3 linked regions of the Homo sapiens genome follow. The protein of the gene in region 1 purifies or fractionates together with the protein of each later gene. This does not show direct contact. Each region holds a gene or a part of one and is shown on either strand. Other genes may lie near its edges.

Evidence for each region.
Region 2: the proteins of PARD6G (region 1) and LLGL2 purify together in Homo sapiens (affinity purification with mass spectrometry; 5 studies listed by BioGRID and IntAct, with this or other methods). This does not show direct contact.
Region 3: the proteins of PARD6G (region 1) and LLGL1 purify together in Homo sapiens (co-immunoprecipitation; 2 studies listed by BioGRID and IntAct, with this or other methods). This does not show direct contact.

The regions. Positions count from the first base shown.
Region 1 is NC_000018.10:80,237,443-80,244,565, forward strand, and holds part of PARD6G (partitioning defective 6 homolog gamma), read right to left. Parts: intron 1-7,123. UniProt on the Homo sapiens protein: Adapter protein involved in asymmetrical cell division and cell polarization processes. May play a role in the formation of epithelial tight junctions. The PARD6-PARD3 complex links GTP-bound Rho small GTPases to atypical protein kinase C proteins.
Region 2 is NC_000017.11:75,570,613-75,575,709, forward strand, and holds the end of LLGL2 (LLGL scribble cell polarity complex component 2), read left to right. Parts: intron 1-337; coding exon 338-488; intron 489-1,054; coding exon 1,055-1,171; intron 1,172-1,285; coding exon 1,286-1,452; intron 1,453-2,401; coding exon 2,402-2,666; intron 2,667-2,868; coding exon 2,869-3,019; intron 3,020-3,339; coding exon 3,340-3,368; intron 3,369-3,498; coding exon of another isoform or gene 3,499-3,581; exon of another isoform or gene 3,582-3,594; intron 3,595-3,600; coding exon 3,601-3,648; intron 3,649-3,840; coding exon 3,841-3,883; intron 3,884-3,997; coding exon 3,998-4,056; intron 4,057-4,258; coding exon 4,259-4,266; coding exon of another isoform or gene 4,267-4,294; 3' UTR 4,295-4,597; downstream 4,598-5,097. UniProt on the Homo sapiens protein: Part of a complex with GPSM2/LGN, PRKCI/aPKC and PARD6B/Par-6, which may ensure the correct organization and orientation of bipolar spindles for normal cell division.
Region 3 is NC_000017.11:18,228,572-18,235,694, reverse strand, and holds part of LLGL1 (lethal(2) giant larvae protein homolog 1), read right to left. Parts: intron 5,755-7,123; coding exon 5,657-5,754; intron 3,201-5,656; coding exon 3,119-3,200; intron 3,024-3,118; coding exon 2,893-3,023; intron 1,918-2,892; coding exon 1,759-1,917; intron 1,683-1,758; coding exon 1,520-1,682; intron 1,423-1,519; coding exon 1,287-1,422; intron 1,047-1,286; coding exon 992-1,046; intron 857-991; coding exon 702-856; intron 607-701; coding exon 383-606; intron 226-382; coding exon 158-225; intron 1-157. UniProt on the Homo sapiens protein: Cortical cytoskeleton protein found in a complex involved in maintaining cell polarity and epithelial integrity. Involved in the regulation of mitotic spindle orientation, proliferation, differentiation and tissue organization of neuroepithelial cells.

The sequences.
Region 1 (7,123 bases):
AAGGACTTCATGTCTAAAACACAAAAAGCAATGGCAACAAAAGCCAAAATTCGCAAATGGGATCTAATTAAACTAAAGAACTTCTGCACAGCAAAAGAAACACCATCAGAGTGAACAGGTAACCTACAGAATGGGAGAAAATTTTTGCAATCTACTCATCTGACAAAGGGCTAATATCCAGAATCTACAAAGAACACAAACAAATTTACAAGAAAAAAACAACCCCATCAACAAGTGGGTGAAGGATATGAACAGACACTTTTCAAAAGAAGACATTTATGCAGCCAAAAGACACATGAAAAAATGTTCATCATCACTGGCCATCAGAGAAATGCAAATCAAAACCACAATGAGATACCATCTCACACCAGTTAGAATGGTGATCATTAAAAAGTCAGGAAACAACAGGTGCTGGAGAGGATATGGAGAAATAGGAACACTTTTACACTGTTGGTGGGACTGTAAACTAATTCAACCATTGTGGAAGTCAGTGTGGCGATTCCTCAGGGATCTAGAACTAGAAATACCATTTGACCCAGCCATCCCATTACTGGGTATATACCCAAAGGATTATAAATCATGCTGCTATAAAGACACATGCACACGTATGTTTACTGCGGCACTGTTCACAATAGCAAAGACTTGGAACCAACCTAAATGTCCAACAATGATAGACTGGAAAATGTGGCACATATACACCACGGAATACTATGCAGCCATAAAAAATGATGAGTTCGTGTCCTTTGTAGGGACATGGATGAAGCTGGAAACCATCAGTGTCAGCAAACTATCGAAAGGACAAAAAACCAAACACTGCATGTTCTCACTCATAGGTGGGAATTGAACAATGAGAACACATGGACACAGGAAGGGGAACATCACATACTGGGGCCTGTTGTGGGGTGTGGGGAGGGAGTAGGGATAGCATTAGGAGATATACCTAATGTTAAATGATGAGTTAATGGGTGCAGCACACCAACATGGCACATGTATACCTATGTAACAAACCTGCATGTTGTGCACAAGTACCCTAAAACTTAAAGTATAACAAAAAAAAAAACAACTATTTTTTTAACCAAAAGTAAAAAAAATAAAAATAAAAACAAAAAACTGGTCTGGCGATAGAGACCCTAATAGTGGTTACCTCGGGGGTAGGTACTCACTAGAAAAGGGCATGAAGGAACCTTCCTGGATGCTGGAATGTTCTGCATCTTGACCACCAAGCCGTACACTTAAGATGAGTGTATTTCACTGTAATACACTCACTGAACACAGCAGACACTGTCGTTGGGCTAAGGGGGTCTGGGACAGCTTCCTGAACAGGCAGTGATTTGAGCCCTGAGGCAGGAAGGCAAGGCTGAACTTCCACTGGCAAGAGTAGGAAAGGATCGGCTTGCTGGGAGGTCACAGAATCGGGGGGCGGGCGGGGGAAGTGGGAGGTGACAGATAGACTAGTAGTTTCACGTAGGCCACGTGGGAGGGCCTCGGTGCCCAGGCTGAAAGCATCCTGCACTACAGTGGTTTTCAAACTTTTTAATCAGCGAAAGCCTTTTCTTCCCCCAAGTGAAATGCTACACATGTATCTCAAAACCAAGCAGATCTGCTCTGGTTGGGGCTGGGGAGTGGAGCCCTCCCCTCTTAGACTCCTCTGCCACTGTCTATGAAGTATGGGATGAGTGACTGATGTGAAGGGAGAATAAGGGAGAGGTGGGGCAGGGGCCAGGGTACAGGAGAGCTCGTCCTTAGACCCCAGGAACATGGGAGCAGCAGGGAGAAGAGGGGGTCGAAGGTACCTGATGACACAGCTGTACCAGAAGTGCTCTGGTCCAGCCACCCCATTCCCAGTGGGCTGGTCCTTGGAGCACTTGAGTGTGCCCAGGCAACTCTGCAAGAGGAAGTGTGTAGGGCTGCTGGTCTACAACAGGGGTACCCTGGGCTACACTGGAGGAAGAATCATCATCTTGGGCCACACATAAAATGCACTAATGACAGCTGATGAGCTAAAAAAAAAATTACCAAAAAAAAATCTCATAAAGTTTTAGGAAAGTTTATGAGTTTGTGTTGGGCCACGTTATTCAAAGCCATCCTGTTCCACATGTGGCCCATAGGCCATGGATTGGACAAGCTTGGTCTACAAGGAAGGGGCACAAGCACCCCTGGAGCTGCTGAGCTGGCAACAAGCAGGTTCCTGGCCTATCTCTGAGCACTGAGAAACTCAGGAGGTGCCAACAGCAACAGAAATAGCTATGTGGGCTTTTAATTTCCAAAGTACCTCACCTTTTCCCCTCAGCTACAGCACTAGTGCCACTTACCTTCACAGGATACAGAGGGCAAGGCCACTGACGCCTCTCAGGGATGCCCCGGCAATGAGCCAACTGGCAAATCAATGTATCAATACATTTTAATTGGTAAAGAAAAGAAGCTTATTTGGCTCACAGTTCTGCAGACTGTACAAGAAGCATGGTGCCAGTATCTGTTTCTGGGGAGGGCTTCTGGCTGCTTCTACTCACAGTGGAAGGTGGAAGGAGAGCCGGCATGTGCAGAGATCATGTGGCAAGAGAGGAGGCAACGGGGGAGGAGCCAGGCTCTTGTTAACAACCAGCTCTTGCTAGAACTCATAGAGCAAGAACTCACTCATTACCATGAGGATGGCACCAAGCCATTCACGAGGGATCCACCTCCATGACCCAAACACTTCCGTTTAGGCTGTACCTCCAACATCGGGGACCAAATTTCAACATGAGGTTTTGATGGTCAAATATCTAAGCTATAACATTCTCCCTGTTCCCACAAATCTCATGTCCTTATGACACTGCAAAATATAATCATCCCTTCTCAATAGTTCCCAAAAGTCCTAACTTGTTCCAGCATCAGCTCAAAAGTGCAAGTAGTTGTCCCTTTCCTCAAAAAGTAATTTTCTAAATTTGCTCAACGGACCATTTCTGAACCAGTAGCTGTCAGGAAAACCCACTTGTTTTTCATCTGAATTCGACCCAAGGAACACTGATTGTGTCCCTAATATAAACAAGGCACTGCTCTTCCCACCTCCAATGCTGAGCTCTTCCTTACACAGCACGCCATTGAGAAACGCAGCTAGGGTTCTGAACTGGCCTCTGAAAACATGTGGGGAGGATTAAAGAGCCCCAAATAAGGACAAGTGGGGACTGGACCCTACCTGCTTCTGGGAGCTATGGAGACCTGGCCTAGAATCTCAAACCACCTCACACAGGCATCACTGTTGCCGATGCAGAGACTATCAGAGCAATTTCAGGGGAGACTCAGCACATTGACTGGTCTTGCGGGGTGGTGGGATGACTGGGCTGCACCGGAAACCTCCGATTTCAAGGAGACGTGAGGCTGTGGATCTGGTGATAGCTTGATTATCAAGACAAAGGACATTCCACCTCACCCAAATCTGCCCACTTACCTGACTGAACCTTCACTGGTGTTTTTAAGGCAGGGATGTTGTACGTTTTACCCCAGCACATGCCCTATGCCTGCCACAAAGTAGTTGCTCAGTAAATGAGTAAACAAATGTATGGATAAGATCAGACTCTGAAAGAATAGCTACTGAATAGAGGACTTCCCGTGAGGCCATGCAGCAAGAACCTTCTACAGTGATGCAAGAAAAATAGAACTTCTCCCCATAAAACACAAGACTAACCCTCCCAGCTGTTTCTTGCAAGCTCCAGATTCAGACAGCTGAGGGAGTCTCTCACCCTATGCACGGTGAGCTGGGAATGTGTGCACCTGTGTCCTGGTTTGTATTTCATGGCTTATTGGATCCTGAGAGGGGTGTGAGCCCTCTTCCAGCAGCCACGGACAACTGGTGGTTCCCACTCTAGACTTTGGAGCTAGACTATCTGGGTTCCAACCCCACTTATGAGCTTTATGACCTTCGGCAGGTCAGTGAAGCACCCTGTGACTCAGTTTCCTCTTCATCTGTATAGTGGGTGTGATAAACGAACCCACGTTACAGTATTGAGATGGGCATTAGTGAACTATCTGCAATTGCAATGCATTTAGGATGGTCCCTGGCCCACGTTACAGTATTGTGATGGGCATTAGTGAACTATCTGCAATTGCAATGTATTTAGGATGGTCCCTGGCACATATATGCACGTATATTGGAGGGGCATTAAGTAAATGTTATTAATACTCCAGAACACAACCTCTCTGCACAGCAGGCAACGTCCAGCCTGGGGGACTCGGGGCAGGGCCGCAGGGTGTGTGTTGGGAAGAGGCTGGGGCCTACACAGGAGCATGTACCTCCCATGGATCCCCAGGGTCATGGTGCAGTAGAAATTTGCCCAGAGGAAGTGGATTTGACATGTAAGCAGCCAAGTGAACACATCTAACCACCTGGAAGGTTCTGCTGCTGTCATGCCAGGCTCCCTTCTTGCTGCCTCTAAAGGTCATGGAGACCCCTTTATGGGAAAAGATCAGGATGCCTCTCCCCTTTGTACTAATTCTGGACGTGATTCACAAACGCCAGAGCTTCTGAGACCTTGAATGGCTGCATCTCCCAATCCTTGATATTCCTTCACTTCCCTAAAATTAGGGCCTTCTATCTGAAATGCCATGGGTCCTAGGAAAGGGCTCTACCCCCTGGCTAGCTGGGGTGCCCACCTGGAAGGCCATCAGAGTCTCCCAGGCCACAGACCTACAAGAAATTGGCAGCCTCCAGGGGCAGTGACGCCATCAGTGCCCCCCAGGCTGACTCTGCACTTGGGTCCCTGGTAAGTCTCCCTAAGATGTGACTTCCCAAATCAAGTCACTGAACCTGTTTAAGCACAGACATGCACAAATACAACAAAACTAAAGTCTTAAAAGGGTGTAGCTGACACACACAGGTGAGTCAAACCATGTCCAGGCAATTCTTAACTGGCCCACAGGAGGCAAGTGTCAGCCACCCAATGGGGAGGCCTGGCCTCAGCTCCATCCCACCGGCTGTCGCACATCACACAGCTGGAAGGGCATGTTCCTGCAGCACCATGGCAGCCAACGGCCTCAGCCAGCAGTAAGATCTTGGGGACCAGAGGAGATATGCTAACACAAAACACTGCACACCTGGCTGTCCCCAGGAGAACCTGGCCAGCCAGTGCATCAGCCAGCCCACCAACAGGCTCCTCATACCCTTGTCATCCTGGAGGGCCCAAGTTTAATGCCTGGGGGCAAGGTCACAACACTCTCAGAGCCAGTCACCCTCAGCACCATCTGCACTGATTGGAAACATTGCGAACAAGAAGCTCCCATAACTTATTAACTCCCAAGAAAACTAACAGAGAAAAAGGATTCAGGACAAAACCAGGCAGTTGAAAATAAATACACAAATAGCCAATAAATACGAAAATTTCAACTCTCTAATAACTTAAGAGATACAAATTAAAACAATGGGATACCATTTCACTCATCTAATTGGGAAAGAATGAGAAAATGCCCAGCGCTAGAAGGAGGAAAGAAGAAAGGGATGGGGAGAAAGAAACAGATGAATGAATAGATATGAAACAGCATCTATAAATTGGTAAAATAAACTTTCCAGAAGAAAAGTAGAAATACGCACTCAAAGCCTGTAAAAGTACGTGCCTTTCCCAGGTGATGTCACTTCCAGGAATTTGTTCTAAAGATCAGTAAGAATTTTGCACTGGTTTAATATAATCAATAATCTTTACATATTTTATATGTGTATATTCTATATATAATCTTTATATAAAGACTTAAAGATATTATTTACAGCACTGTTTACTGTGGAAAAAATTGGGGTTAACTTAAGATACTGGTTAGTCATGGTTTAGACATGAGCAGGAATATGATGCAGTCTTTTCTGTTGTCTAAAAATATTACTGACATGAAAAAACACTCGCAATACATGATAAGTTAGAGGGGAAGCCGGCTACACCATGACATGCCTATTTGACCCAAATTCTGTAACACAAGAATGCGTGCATCATACAGGCACACAAAAGACCGGAAGGCCAGAGGCAACATTTAACAGTGGCTCACCTTTGGACAGGAGAGCTACCAATGGTGTTGGCCCTTCTTTGTGCTTGGCTGTGGTTTCTAAATTTCCTACGATGACACTGTGTTAGCTTAGAATCCAAAAAAGCCCCATCATTATTTAATCAGGAAGCACAAATGGGATGAAAACCTTCTCCCTCAGATATAATTAACACGACAGACAATCTGTGCCGAACATAACTGTGGCACCAGCATCATGACAAGTGCCAATAAGATGACCAGAAACACCAAGAAGGGGTCGGACAGAGAAAGTTTGTTCTGGCACAGGCATCCAGAATGACTTTGTAGAAGAGGGAGCTGTCTAAGAAGGTCCTCAGGATAGGGCAGATTCTCAGAGAAAGCATTTCAGGTAGGGGAAGCCACAAACTAGGGAAACACAGGCCAAAGAAAGCGTGGGCCGAGGGCATGAGCAGCGGGCCATCTACGCTCACGTCTGAAGGAACTCGGGGCTCTGGGCTGAGCACACTGCTGGGAGCGGGGATGAGCTGTGTTTCTCTGGATTTTTCAAGCTCATGCGGACGACAGTGGAATTGACGCAATACTGACGTAGGTAAAGGCGTTGCTAAGTTCGTAGTGGCACCGTGTTGCTTGCTGTCTTCTCCTCATATGAAAATTCATCTCCATTTACCGCCCCCTGTAAACCCCTTCCGATCCCAGCACTGGCTTTTCCGCTGCATTCTAAGGTGGCCAAGGACTCTTGCTCTCCTCCACGTGAAACACCCTAACCCTCTGCGTAGCTCCTCCCTCCCCACGGCAGGTCCTGTGGAAGGAGAGGCCAAAGTCGAAGCTAAGTGGGAAAAGGGTGGTCCCATGAACAGAACTAGGGAATTGGAAGTACATACTGCAGCTGGTTTGGTGAGGAACAGATGAATCACTGGAATTCAGGTAAAAATGTTTGGAGAAGTATAAGGGCTGCAAAATGAGGAAAAGCCACCAGGTCAAGATCAAGACCATATGGCCCCTCGCGCACACACACCAGGGTCCTGTCCCTAAGCACTGGGGACTGACCATCTGTGGCAAATGGTGAATGACAAAAATTCTGAGAGAACCTAAGGCAGTTTTCCAACCCAATATCTTAAAATGCCAAAGAATTCTGACCTGCAGT
Region 2 (5,097 bases), on another chromosome or scaffold:
CAGGGTCCAGGTCGCATTGTGTGACCTCAGACAGGTCACGCTGCTTCTCTCTGCCTCAGCTTCCTGAGCAGAAAGGCAGTAACTGTAATGCTTATCCTAGAAGTAATCCCCAGTAAACGTTAGTGATTTCCTTTTTCTCTCTACAACATGCTGGGGGCCCAGGCAGGCTCCCCCAAGGGCACCTCCCTCTTGGACAAGGGTCCCTCTAGACGCAGGCCTGGCAGGTGGCTGGCATGGCTGTGGCCTGCCTTCCGATGCAAGGATCAGCACTGAGCGAAGCACTGTTCCTGGGGAGGGGAGTCCAGAGCTGACCCTTAGGCTGGCCCACCCCTTGCAGGCACAGGAGGGGAGTGCCAAGGCTGAGCGGCCAGGCCTCCAGAACATGGAGCTGGCGCCTGTGCAGCGCAAGATCGAGGCTCGCTCGGCAGAGGACTCCTTCACAGGCTTCGTCCGGACCCTGTACTTTGCTGACACCTACCTGAAGGACAGTGAGTGGCCAGCCTGGGGTTGGGGGGCAGGGGGTAGTGGGCAGCAGACACCCCCTGACCTGGGGGCATGCCGGGGGCTGCTGCCTGCCTGGCTGGTAGGAGCTAAGAGGTTTCCCCTTGTGAGCAGGGGCAGACTGCAGCCCCTGCCTGCTTACTCCCCTCCCCTGCCTCAGCCTCTGAGTCAGCTTCCCTTGGCTTTATATCCAGGCCGTAGCACCCTTTAGAAGCATGGCCTCAGACCCATCACTTAGCCTTTCAGGGCCTCAGCTTGCTTCTCTGTAAATGAGGAAGTGACAGCTTCCTCCTAGAGCAGCTGTGACGATCGGGGACAGCAGAGCCTGCTGGTCTCCAGATGACGTGTCTCTCCCTGGCTGGTTCTCCCCTGCTGTATCACAGCAAGGGCTGAGCTGACCTGGGATTGGGGTCTTCTATGTTGGGGCCTGTGTGGTTGTCAGAGAGCCTTCCAGCCTCTCCCAGGAGGGAAAACCTGGGAGTAAACCCTGGTTGCCCAGCTCCACCCGACTCCCACGCTAAGGGTCAGACACCCAAACATGGCTTCTCGGCAGGCTCCCGGCACTGCCCCTCGCTGTGGGCTGGCACCAATGGGGGCACCATCTATGCCTTCTCCCTGCGTGTGCCTCCCGCCGAGCGGAGAATGGATGAGCCTGTGCGGGCAGAGCAGGGTGAGTGCTGGGCAGGGAGAGCAGAGGGTGCTCGGGCTGCCTGGGCTGGGTCCAGGGAGTGGCTCCAGCCCTGCCACCCCCTCACCAGCCCCAACACCCACCTCCTCCCCCTAGCCAAGGAGATCCAGCTGATGCACCGGGCGCCGGTGGTGGGCATCCTGGTGCTCGACGGACACAGCGTACCCCTTCCCGAGCCCCTCGAAGTGGCCCATGATCTGTCGAAGAGCCCTGACATGCAGGGAAGCCACCAGCTGCTCGTCGTATCAGAGGAGCAGTTCAAGGTGCCACACGGGCAGCGGCGGGTCTCCCTGGGACTCCCCGGGACATCCAGGAGGCTCGGACCTTGGGCAAAAATGATGGCTGGGACTCAGTCTTGTTTGCAGTTGGTGTCTGAGGGGCTGCAGAAGTACAGGAAATAAGTGAGGGGGGAGTCTCGTGTGAGGACACTGAGGCAGGACAGGGGGCCAGGCGCGGTGACTCATGCCTGTAATGCCAGCACTTTGGGAGGCCAGATCACAAGGGCAGGAGTTCGAGATCAGCCTGGCCAATATGGTGAAACCCTGACTACTAAAAATACAAAAAAAAATAGCCCGGCATGGGCCAGGCGCGGTGGCTCATGCCTGTAATCCCAGCACTTTGGGAGGCCGAGGCGGGCAGATCACAAGGTCAGGAGATCGAGACCATCCTGGCTAACACGGTGAAACCCCGTCTCTACAAACAAATGCAAAAAAATTAGTTAGGCGTGGTGGCGGGCACCTGTAGTCCCAGCTACTCAGGAGGCTGAGGCAGGAGAATGGCGTGAACCCAGGAGGCGGAGCTTGCAGTGAGCCGAGATTGTGCCACTGCCCTCCAGCCTGGGCGACAGAGCGAGATTCCGTCTCAAAAAAAAAAAAAAAAACCAGCATGGTGGTGGACGCCTGTAATCCCAGCTCTACTCGGGAGGCTGAGGCAGAAGAATTGCCTGAGGCGGAGGTTGCAGTGAGCCGAGATCACACCACTGTACTCCAGCCTGGGCGACAGAGCAAGACTCCATCTCGGAGGAAAAAAAAAAAAATCCAGATAGGGAAGTCGGTGACCTCGGCATCCTCCCAGGCCATGTCTGTGCATCTGAGAGCCAAGGGTTTGTCAGGACACCGGGAGGCATGTGGGGAGGGGAGGGCCCAGCAGCAGCAGCACAGGGCAGGAGAACTGGTTTGGCCATGGGCATGAACAACCACCCCACGCCCCCAGGTGTTCACGCTGCCCAAGGTGAGTGCCAAGCTGAAGTTGAAGCTGACGGCCCTGGAGGGCTCAAGAGTGCGGCGGGTCAGCGTGGCCCACTTCGGCAGTCGTCGAGCCGAGGACTACGGGGAGCACCACCTGGCAGTCCTTACCAACCTGGGCGACATCCAGGTGGTCTCGCTGCCCCTGCTCAAGCCCCAGGTGCGCTACAGCTGCATCCGCCGGGAGGACGTCAGTGGCATCGCCTCCTGCGTCTTCACCAAATATGGCCAAGGTGTTTGAGCCGGGCTGGGTGGGTGTCGGGGCCCCGGGCACTGCACGGACGGGAAGGGTGGCCAGGGGTGTTGTGGCCACGGCCAGACTGGATGGGCCTTAAGCGGAGAACTGCGAGGGAGCACTAGCCCCTACTCCCCCAGGTGGGGAGGCAGCCTTGGCAGCCGCCAGGCCAGGCCGCTAGCATTGCCCCCACTCCCCAGGCTTCTACCTGATCTCACCCTCGGAGTTTGAGCGCTTCTCTCTCTCCACCAAGTGGCTGGTGGAGCCCCGGTGTCTGGTGGATTCAGCAGAAACCAAGAACCACCGCCCTGGTAACGGTGCGGGCCCCAAGAAGGCCCCGAGCCGAGCCAGGTGAGTGAAAGGGCCAGAGGCCTCTCCCGCCCCTCCCGCCCCTCCCTGCCCTCTCTGAGATACCGAGGCTCCCACTGCTGCCTGGCTGGAGGCACCTCCCCACGAGCTCAGCCCACCCTCCCAGGCTCCGGCTCTCCTTGCCTCTTTGCGTGCCCCTTGCCCCTGTGCAAGCTGGCAGTCCAGGGCAGGACTCAGTTTACCTCCCAGGCTCTCCGGCTCAGGACAGGCTGCGCCATTGACTTGTTCTTCATGGGACCAGGGCTCTCAGAGCCGGGCAGGGAGCCCGGGGGCCCTGGTCCTCACTGTCTCTTCCCCCACAGGAACTCAGGGACTCAGAGTGATGGCGAGGGTAAGACAGGCCTCCTGGGCTCATGCACACCTGGGCCACACCCGGCCCAGACCTGGGGCTGGACGGGAGGGAAGGGTCCCGAGTGAGCAGGTAGTGTTTGGGCTGGGAATAGAGACGGCATTCCTTCCAGCCCTGGGCCCTGGGCTTCCACATCCTGACCTCAGTAAGGAGAGAGAGAGCCAGGCCGAGGAGGGCCCAGGCGGGGCGCCCTGACCCGGCCTCTACCTTCCAGAGAAGCAGCCCGGCCTGGTGATGGAGCGCGCTCTGCTCAGTGATGAGAGTGAGTTGGGTGGGAGAGGGTGGGGCTGGCAGGAGGGGTGGGGAAGGGGGGTCAGGGTCAAGGGAGGCTGGGCAGGCCACTGCCCTGAGGCGGGGTACAGATCCATGGGCACCCACGGAGAAAGGGGGTGGAAGGGCTGTGGCTAGCCGCCCCAAGGGCCTCAGTGGGCCTCTGTTCCCACCCGGCCTGCAGGAGTCCTGAAGGAAATCCAGAGCACACTGGAGGGAGACCGCGGGTGAGGCACCGCCCAGGCCAGCTGGGGTGGGCCCGAGGCTCTGCCAGAGGGCTCAGGGGAGCGCTGAGAGTGGAGGTCCCTGAGGCCATGACTCCCCTGTCTTTGCCTGTGCAGGAGCGGCAACTGGCGTTCACATCGAGCCGCCGTGGGGTGCAGCCTCAGCAATGGCGGAGGTGGGGGCTCTGGGCTTGAGTGCAGCTGCCAACCGTGCTGGGAAGGGCTGGGAGGAAGAGCCCCGGCCCCACTCCCCTGGGTCCCACGGGGCTGACACGTGCCCTGATGACCAGGAAAGCACCATGTCTGGGCTCAGCGTGGGCGGCTGGGGCACCCCGTCCTGCCCAGGGTGATCTTGAGCTGTCCCTCTGTGTCCTTCAGCAGAGTGAGTGGCTGAGCGTCCAGGCTGCGCGATGAGCACACACTACTACTGATGGCCTTTCGGGGGTCCCTGCCCCAACCGGAGAGGCCGGTGCACAGGGCCCCGCCAGGGGCTGGGGGCATCCCGGCTTCCACAATGCAGCTGCTCTGGGCCTCGGGAGAGGAGAGACCCCAGTCCCCTGGGCTGCCCTTCCCGGGCCTCGTCTGTCTGGGTCCTTTGGTCAATGTTGCACAGTTTTTATTGCTCCCATCCCTTTTTGTAGTGGGCTGGGTTTTAAGTTATAAATGTTAACTGCCTCTGGGTGAAAAAGTTTTTAATAAACACCTATTACCTCTTGACTGGTCCACTACTTTAATATTTTAATTGTGTAGAAATTTTCCATGTGAATGGAAAGTGGGAGCCGGTACCCTGCCTGTCCCCCGAGGCTCCAGCCCTGGCCTGGGCCGGTGTCAGGAGAATCCACTTGGGGAGCCGTGTGAATCAAACTGCTTCGTTTTGTCTGAGCCCGGCGGTGCCTTCCCTCTGTGGGAACACATGGCAAGCACGAACCATCTTGAGTCTGCCTGACTTTTTCCCTGGGTCCTGGCCGCCCCTGGCTGGCCTTTCCCTACTGTCAGAAGAAGGACACCCACAATATCTCAGACCTGATGGCTTCCTCCAGACACCAGGGAGGACTGTGGGGTGCTGCTGAAGCGGGGCTGGTACCCAAGGAGAAAGGCCTTCCCCAGGGGAGGGGCTGGGTTATTTAGATTGGACATGGGCTGGATCTTTATTGACTCGTCTTCGTTGAGCACCTACTGTATGGCCAGTGCGTGGGGTTCTCCGGTGTCTGAGACAA
Region 3 (7,123 bases), on another chromosome or scaffold:
GAGGTTTCATTCCAAACCACCTTGGGCAAGGAGGAACTACCTGGTCCCACCAGGGGCCAGGCCTGAGTCTCCTGGCACCTCTGCACCCACCAGGCCCAGGATGGGCTCTCCCCCAACAGCAAGGGGCCCACTCACCCACATAAGCACGCACACCTACCCCGTCAGCAGCAGCCCTCGCTGTGACGGCTCCTGGGCCAGGTTTCGGCCCCCAGTGATGGGCCAGCTCTGGGAGGGGGTGGCAGAGATGTATGCACAAGGTTAGGACGAACATCTTCTCCCTCTCACCCCGAGTATGGCACATTCTGACCTCCGGGCTTAGAACTGAAACTCTCCCCCTCCTCAAGACTCCACCCTGTAAGACCCCCCTGATCGCCGCACACACCAAGGCACTGGAGACAGGCTGGGGGCTCTGCTGCTCGCCAGCGCTCACAATGCGGGCCCACAGCTTGGCGGGGACACTGGCCACGTGGGCCGAGCAAGTGATTGCAGAGGAGTGCAGCGGGGCCAGGTATGGGGCAGGCACAGCTGGCCAGCCAGGAGTCTGCAGGTCCAGCACCACCAGCTCCTCTTCCAGCAGCACAGCCAGGGCCTGGGGGTCATCAAATTCTGTGGGACGGAGGGAGTATGGGGTGAGCACAGCCATAGGTGGCAGAGGGCACCAGGTGGGGCTGGGAAAGGGTAGGGTACGGCAGGGCACGCACCATCCTCGGGCCGTGTGCTGTGCACTGTGAAGAAGTCGATGATGCGGGAAGTGAAGTCCAGCGTCACCAATGTCTCGGCTCGAAGCACACTTACACAGTGGCGGTCACCATAGCTGGCACGGGGCATGCCACCGCTGAAGATGATAAAGTGGCCCCTATGTGCAGAGGGAGGTGTGCGAGCCATGAACCACTTGGGTCCAGAGCACATACTGCACAACCTAGGGAGAGCCCACCCTTCCAGCCCCCTAGCCAGACCCAACTCACATCGGACACCCACTCCCTCGACCTACCCAGATTCACAGTTCCGCCACAGAATCTTGTTAATGGCCTTGCAGGGAAAGGGGCCTGAGGGGTGGGACAGCGTCAGACCAGACTCACTGGTGGTTCTTAGCAATTCTGCCATTCCTGCTCTGCCCTCCACTGCTCTCTACCTTACAGCTGCCTCCTGCCTCCCCGGGAAGTCGGCGGGAGACACACTGCCCCCAGACCACCCCCTCGGGGAAGTCCCTCCTCAGCCAGTTTGGCTTGGCTCAGTGGTGCCCCCTCCCATCACCACCCTCTGGCTAAGGTGTCCCCAGCACTCACCGTAAGGTGTGGTGGCTACCGTGGGCTGCAGCGTTGGGAAGCTGCCGGCATCCACAGACCAGACAGCATAGCTGCCATCGCTGTGTGAGCTGACCACAGTGCTGCTATCACGCCCCCAGCATAGGCTCTCCAGCTGCTGCGGGCAGGCAGGGGCAGGCAGGCAGGCAGGCATGAGCCATGGTGGGCATGCACAAGGGGCCCAGGCTGAGGGGACACAGGCCTCACCTACATACCTGGTTCCCCAGGAAGATGTGGTCCACACACTGCGAGGCCTGGTTCCAGATGACCAGCAGGCCCCGGCTGTAGCCAATGAGAATCTTTGTGGGGTCCCGCAGGTGTCCCTGGAGTGACTCCACGGGGCCCAGTGCCTTCCCACAGCGGTAGTCGTCTGGCACGCTGTGGAGGAAGGCAGGTGAGCCAGCAGAACTTCCCGGGCACACAGTGGGTGCTGGGAAGCCCACCGGCCTCTTACCTGCGCAGAACCTCGCCTGGGGCAAGCGTCTGCCCCTCGAGCAGGGTCAGGGTGGTAACATCCAGGAAGAAGACACTGCTGCCCTCAGTGCCCAGGGCTGCTATGTCGCTGGCAGCCACCAGCAGGACCACTGTGACTCGGGTAAGGCTGAGCGGAGCACTGCAGGGAACAAGGGGAAGGGAGTGAGGGTACAAGCCCATCCACCTGCTCAGGTGGGGTGTGAGGGGCTGGGCCACTGCTGATAACTCATCACTGGCCCCACAGCACTCACCAGGGCCTACTTACAGAGCCACCCCAGGAAGACATGCATCATCATCAGCCCGCTCAATTATTCATCAGGATGTCAGCAGGGAGATGGATAAAAATAGGGTCCCTAGGTCTTGCAGACTGGGCTCCCAGCTCCTCCCACCCACCAGGAGAGGACAGCAGGAACCAGGGCACTGCCCAAGCCAGGACCAGGAGCTCCCCGCTGAGCCCCTCCTAGGAATCCCGCTGCCAGCGCTCAGACATCTCCTGACTTCGCAGGAGGGCCCCAGATACCCCCATCTGCAGAAGCTGGGAGGCATCAGGAATCCATCCCTGGGTTGGTACTCCCCTTTTCCAGCTATTTCAGGCAGGGCTGGGGAGAGAGATGCCCCACACTCTCACTCAGCTGGGGCATGCTGCCAGCGCCTTACCAAGCACAGCCCATGGGACCCTCCTTGCCCTCAACCCTGCCTATGCACAGAAAGGCCTGTCTCCCACCCACAACTGAAGAGGCCAGGGGACCCTTCCTGTTACTAACTGGCTTAGGCCCTGCCCCAAACCCCTAGACACCCCCATCATTGCAGTAAGTGTAGTGCCAGGCCTCAGGTCCTAGAAGTTTGGCATATAATGCATGTACCTCCTGCTGCTCACAATGTTAATTACCTGCTCACGTCGGACTCAACCCAAACCTCCCATTTAACCTGAAAAGTTCAGAGTATACCTCAGTAAAGCAGGGTCCAACAGCTGCAGCCTGGGACCCAGGCCCAGCTCAAGGCATCCCGCCCTGAACCGCTGCCCATCTCCATGCTGCCTTTGCACAGCAGGTTCCCACAGCCTCCCCCAGATCCTCCCTGCCCGGTGGCTGGCCCCAGCCAAGTTCTCCAGTACCTGGCACCATCAAAGCCGGGCCGGCTGGGCAGCTGGAAACTGAGTGCTTCTTCCAGGTGGGCACAGCCATTATGGTGGACAATCTCCCAGAGATGCAGACTGCTGTCATCAAGCAGGGACAGGAGGCGGCCCTGGTGTGTGAGCAGAGATGAAAACTAGGCTGGCCTAGGGGGATGAGTAGATATGGGGGCCACAGGGAGCTGGCTAGTGGGAAGCAGAGGCTCACCTGGCCGGTCAAGAAGTGCATCTGTGTGACAGTGGCTGCATCCCGGTGCAGGCCTGTGAACTCCACGCCAGGTGCACCATAGCTGAGGGTGGCAGGTCAAGGTGGAAATAGGCATAGACCAGCAAACCACAGTGAGGAAGACACCCAAGGCTCCTCCTTGACCCGGACTATTCCAGTGGGCCCCGGCATGGGCCTGACCATCCAGGAGTCCTCCCTGAAGAACGGAGGCCCCCTCCCTAAAGCTCCCACTCTGCACCCCTACAGTATCCCCAAGATCAGTGTGCAGGCTCCACTCACTCCTGCAAGTCAGGTGCTGCTATAGGACCTTCACTTCCCGTAAATTGGGCCAGTGACTCCCACTTTACAGGACTGTTGCAGATCAAGTGAGAATAAACACACCCAGCAGGCTTGGCCTCAGCCTGGTGAGAGGATGGGGCTCCGCTCCACTTCAGCTCCGTGTGTCTATGGGTTCTGGGAGCTGCGCCTTGCCGGATGGGATCAGGCAGGCCAGAGGTGCAAGGCCAGGCCTGGACAAGAAAGCCAGGGGGCAGAAGAGTCCAGGCTGCCTTTTCCCACAGCTTCAGGCCAAACTTCAGCCATGGGTAAGAAAACCCACCTCCTCTGGGCACGGTGGCTCGCTCCTGTAATCCCAGCACTTTGGGAGGCCGAGGCAGGTAGATCACAAGGTCAGGAGTTGAGGACCAGCCTGGCCAAGATGGTGAAACCTCGTCTCTACTAAAAACGCAAAAATTAGCCGGGCATGCTGGCAGGCACCTGTAATCCCAGCTATTTGGGAGGCTGAGGCAGAGAACTGCTTGAACCCGGGAGGCAAAGGTTGCAGTGAGCCAAAACTGTGCGACTGCACTCCAGCCTGGGCAACAAAGAGCAAGACTCCATCTCAAAAAAACAAAACAAAACAAAAAAAACCCACCTCCCTCCAAAGCAGGCAGCCAACAACTGCCATCATGAGGGAGGAGAGACTCCAGCCTGCCCATTTCACAGATGAGCACACAGACTTGGAGGGGGTGGATGACCTGCTTGAAGTGCCCAGTGTCAGTGCCTGAGTCCCGGCAACTCCAGGGCTGATGGTGGACAGCAGGGCCTGAGGGGGCCCCATGACAGAGGGTGCAGGGAGGAGTCAGCAACGTTGCCCCGGTGACAACACAGGAGCCGTTGCCTGGAGCTTGAGCTCAGATTCCCTACAGGAGCCTGGCGAGAAACTCCGAAGAAGGGACAAAAGAGGGGACAGGAGCAGCTGGGCGGGAACCAGGGTCGTCAAGGAGATGGGGCTGGCCTGGCAGGGGGAGGGGCAGCTTCTAGTGACCAGGGCTGGCCCTCTCCAGCCTCAGTTTCCCAACCCAAGGGGCTCCAGGCAGTGGCAGTCAGGGGAAAAAGGGAAGAGGACCCCGGGCTCCAGCCTCCTTTCTGAGGCTCAGTCTCCTCATCTGCACTTCAGGTTCTTTTTGAGCCTGAGGACAAGTGCACTGGAGACCCCAACACAGGAGGGACACCTGAAGGCTGCAGGGACACATGTGCGCACGCAGCGCAGCACCCACAGGAGTGGGAGCAGCAGGCCAGGCAGCGGAGCATGTGGGGCCCAGAGCACTGCCACACTCACCAACAGAGGCCGCTGGGGCCATGGGAGAGAAGGGGACATCTCAGCCCATCCACACTCCCCAGAGTAGGCAAAGAGCTCACAAACCACAGGCTCAGAGTCCCATCCCTGCCTGATCAGTGCCCCCAGTCCTGGGGTGAGGAGACCCCCATCCCACACCCTCCCCTTTCCCAGCACTGACACATTTTCTGGGAACTGATGTCTGAAACCAGGATACTGAAACCCAGAAGGCCACACAGGAGGGGTAGGGGTCAGCACCCCTCACCAAGCCGCCATCAGCCAGACCCTGGCACCTCGGCTTCCCCAAGAGCAGTTGGGGTGGGATTCTCCAGGGCTGGCAAGGAGACACTGAGCTGCCGGCCTGCCCCCACCCCCACCCCAGGCCTGCAGGGAAAATGCCCGCTTTGTGTGGCTCACACAGCCCATTGTGCAGCAGCCAGTATCCAGGTGGGGGCCGTGCTGTGCTCACCATGCCGAGCCTGGCACTGCCCCCAGGCCCCTTTGCTGAACACATGTGTCTTCACATTCACACATGTGTGCATCAGCTCACCAGGGCCCCCAGCCCACCTGCCACCCTCCATGGGTATCATAGCCCAGCCTTCTGCCTGGCCTCCCCAGAGTTGCTGGGACGATGGCAGGGTCGCCTAGGTAACTGGCTGGCTGACACGTAGCAAGGGACAGCTGTGCTACTGCAAACTGACCCCCCACCACCCGTCTCTCAGCAAAAGGACCCCATCATCTCTGCACAGTTGTCTCAGGTACAGAAGCCACGCCAACCTCCGCAGAAGCCCCCACTACTGCCCATCAGAGCACCTCTGTCCTCCTCTCGAGCTGGACACTGCCAAGACTGGGACCCCAGAGCACAGGGAACTACAGGCAGGTGGTCCTGAACAGACCCTGAACACCTGTCCTGCAAAGGATACATCTTGACAGCCCCAGACCTGGTGCCGATGGCCATGATGCGAAGTTCCGGGTCGAAGGCCAGGGCGCTGGGCTGATTGGGGAAGCCATGCTCCACAGTCTGCAAGGAGGGGAGGGCTGCTGGGGGTAAGCACTCCCAGGCACCTCTGCCATGGCCCACCCTGAGGCCCACCCCAAGGCAGCCTCCAGGGTCTGCAGCTGACACACTGGGGGTAGGAGGCAGGTCTACTTGCTCTGTGCCTCAGCGTCCTCAACTGTGAAATGGGTTATCATGCCTCCAGTTGGTGGGGAGGTGGCTAAACCCCTAGCCTCCACCATGACTGTACCGCGTGCATAGTCCACAGAGGCCCGCCCTTTGCCAAGCCCCTGTGCCCCTCAATGCACACAGGCTCATGTGGGCCCCACTGCATGGAGGCTCCAGCAACAAACAGGTGAAGCAAGGCTCACAGAGGTGCAGGCACTGATGAGGCCCCACCTGCTCCATGAAGGGCTCTGCACCCCATTTTTAGAGGCACAGACTAAAGCTTGCGGAGGAGTCCCGCAAGATGACCATGACACTCCCCAAACACAGGCCTGAGTGGAGGTCAGAGGTCAAGGGACAACATCCAGGATCAGCTAGGCAGAGGCTTTTGACTCCTCCCAGACACAGGGAGACAGAGGCCCAGAGAGGGGTAGCTTTCTGCCTGGACCCCGAAGGCATCCTCCCACCTCCCCACCTGCCAACAGCTGGGCAACATGACTCCCATAACCATCAGGGGCGGAGATGGTGTTAAGGGGGTCTGTGTGCCCAGAGTGTCGATGAAACAGCTCCCCACCCGCTCCCCTGCCCCTTTCACAGCACACCCTTTCTGCACCAGTCTCCTGTCTTTGGCCTGGCTGTGCCCTCCCTGGGAAGCCTGCACAGCTGAGCTCCAGCCCCATCCTGAACACCAGTGCAGGACACCCACGTGGGCCACTGGTAACTCCTTTTATCTTGTTGTTGTTATTTATTTTTCACTTTTACCACTGGTAATTCCTGACCCACTGCCTCAGGAAGATGCACATTTGTAAGAAACCCCAGTTCCCAGCCTGTAACGCGAACCTCCCTCCCTGCCTGCCTCTGCCCATCCAGGTGGGGACTGAGCCCTCTGGGCAGCTGGTTTGGTCACGGCCTAGCTGTCTGGCCTTGGGCAAGTCACAGTACTCTCCAAGACTCAGTACTCTCCAAGCTTCAGTCTCTCATCTGGGCCCTTGGGACAGTAAGCCCACCTAAGGACAGAGTTGGCGATTTGGCTGGGGCTTCTCTCTCCCACCAATAATACCACGCCCTTGCTGCACCTGACCTTGTCTAGCCAGTCCCTCGCTACAACCAGGGTCCAGAGACGGGACACTGCATCGCAAATCCCCACAGCCTTCCCATTTTACAAACGAGGAAAGGAGGTTACATGCACTGTCCAGCATCTGCTTCCCTCATACCCCACGTCCAGTCC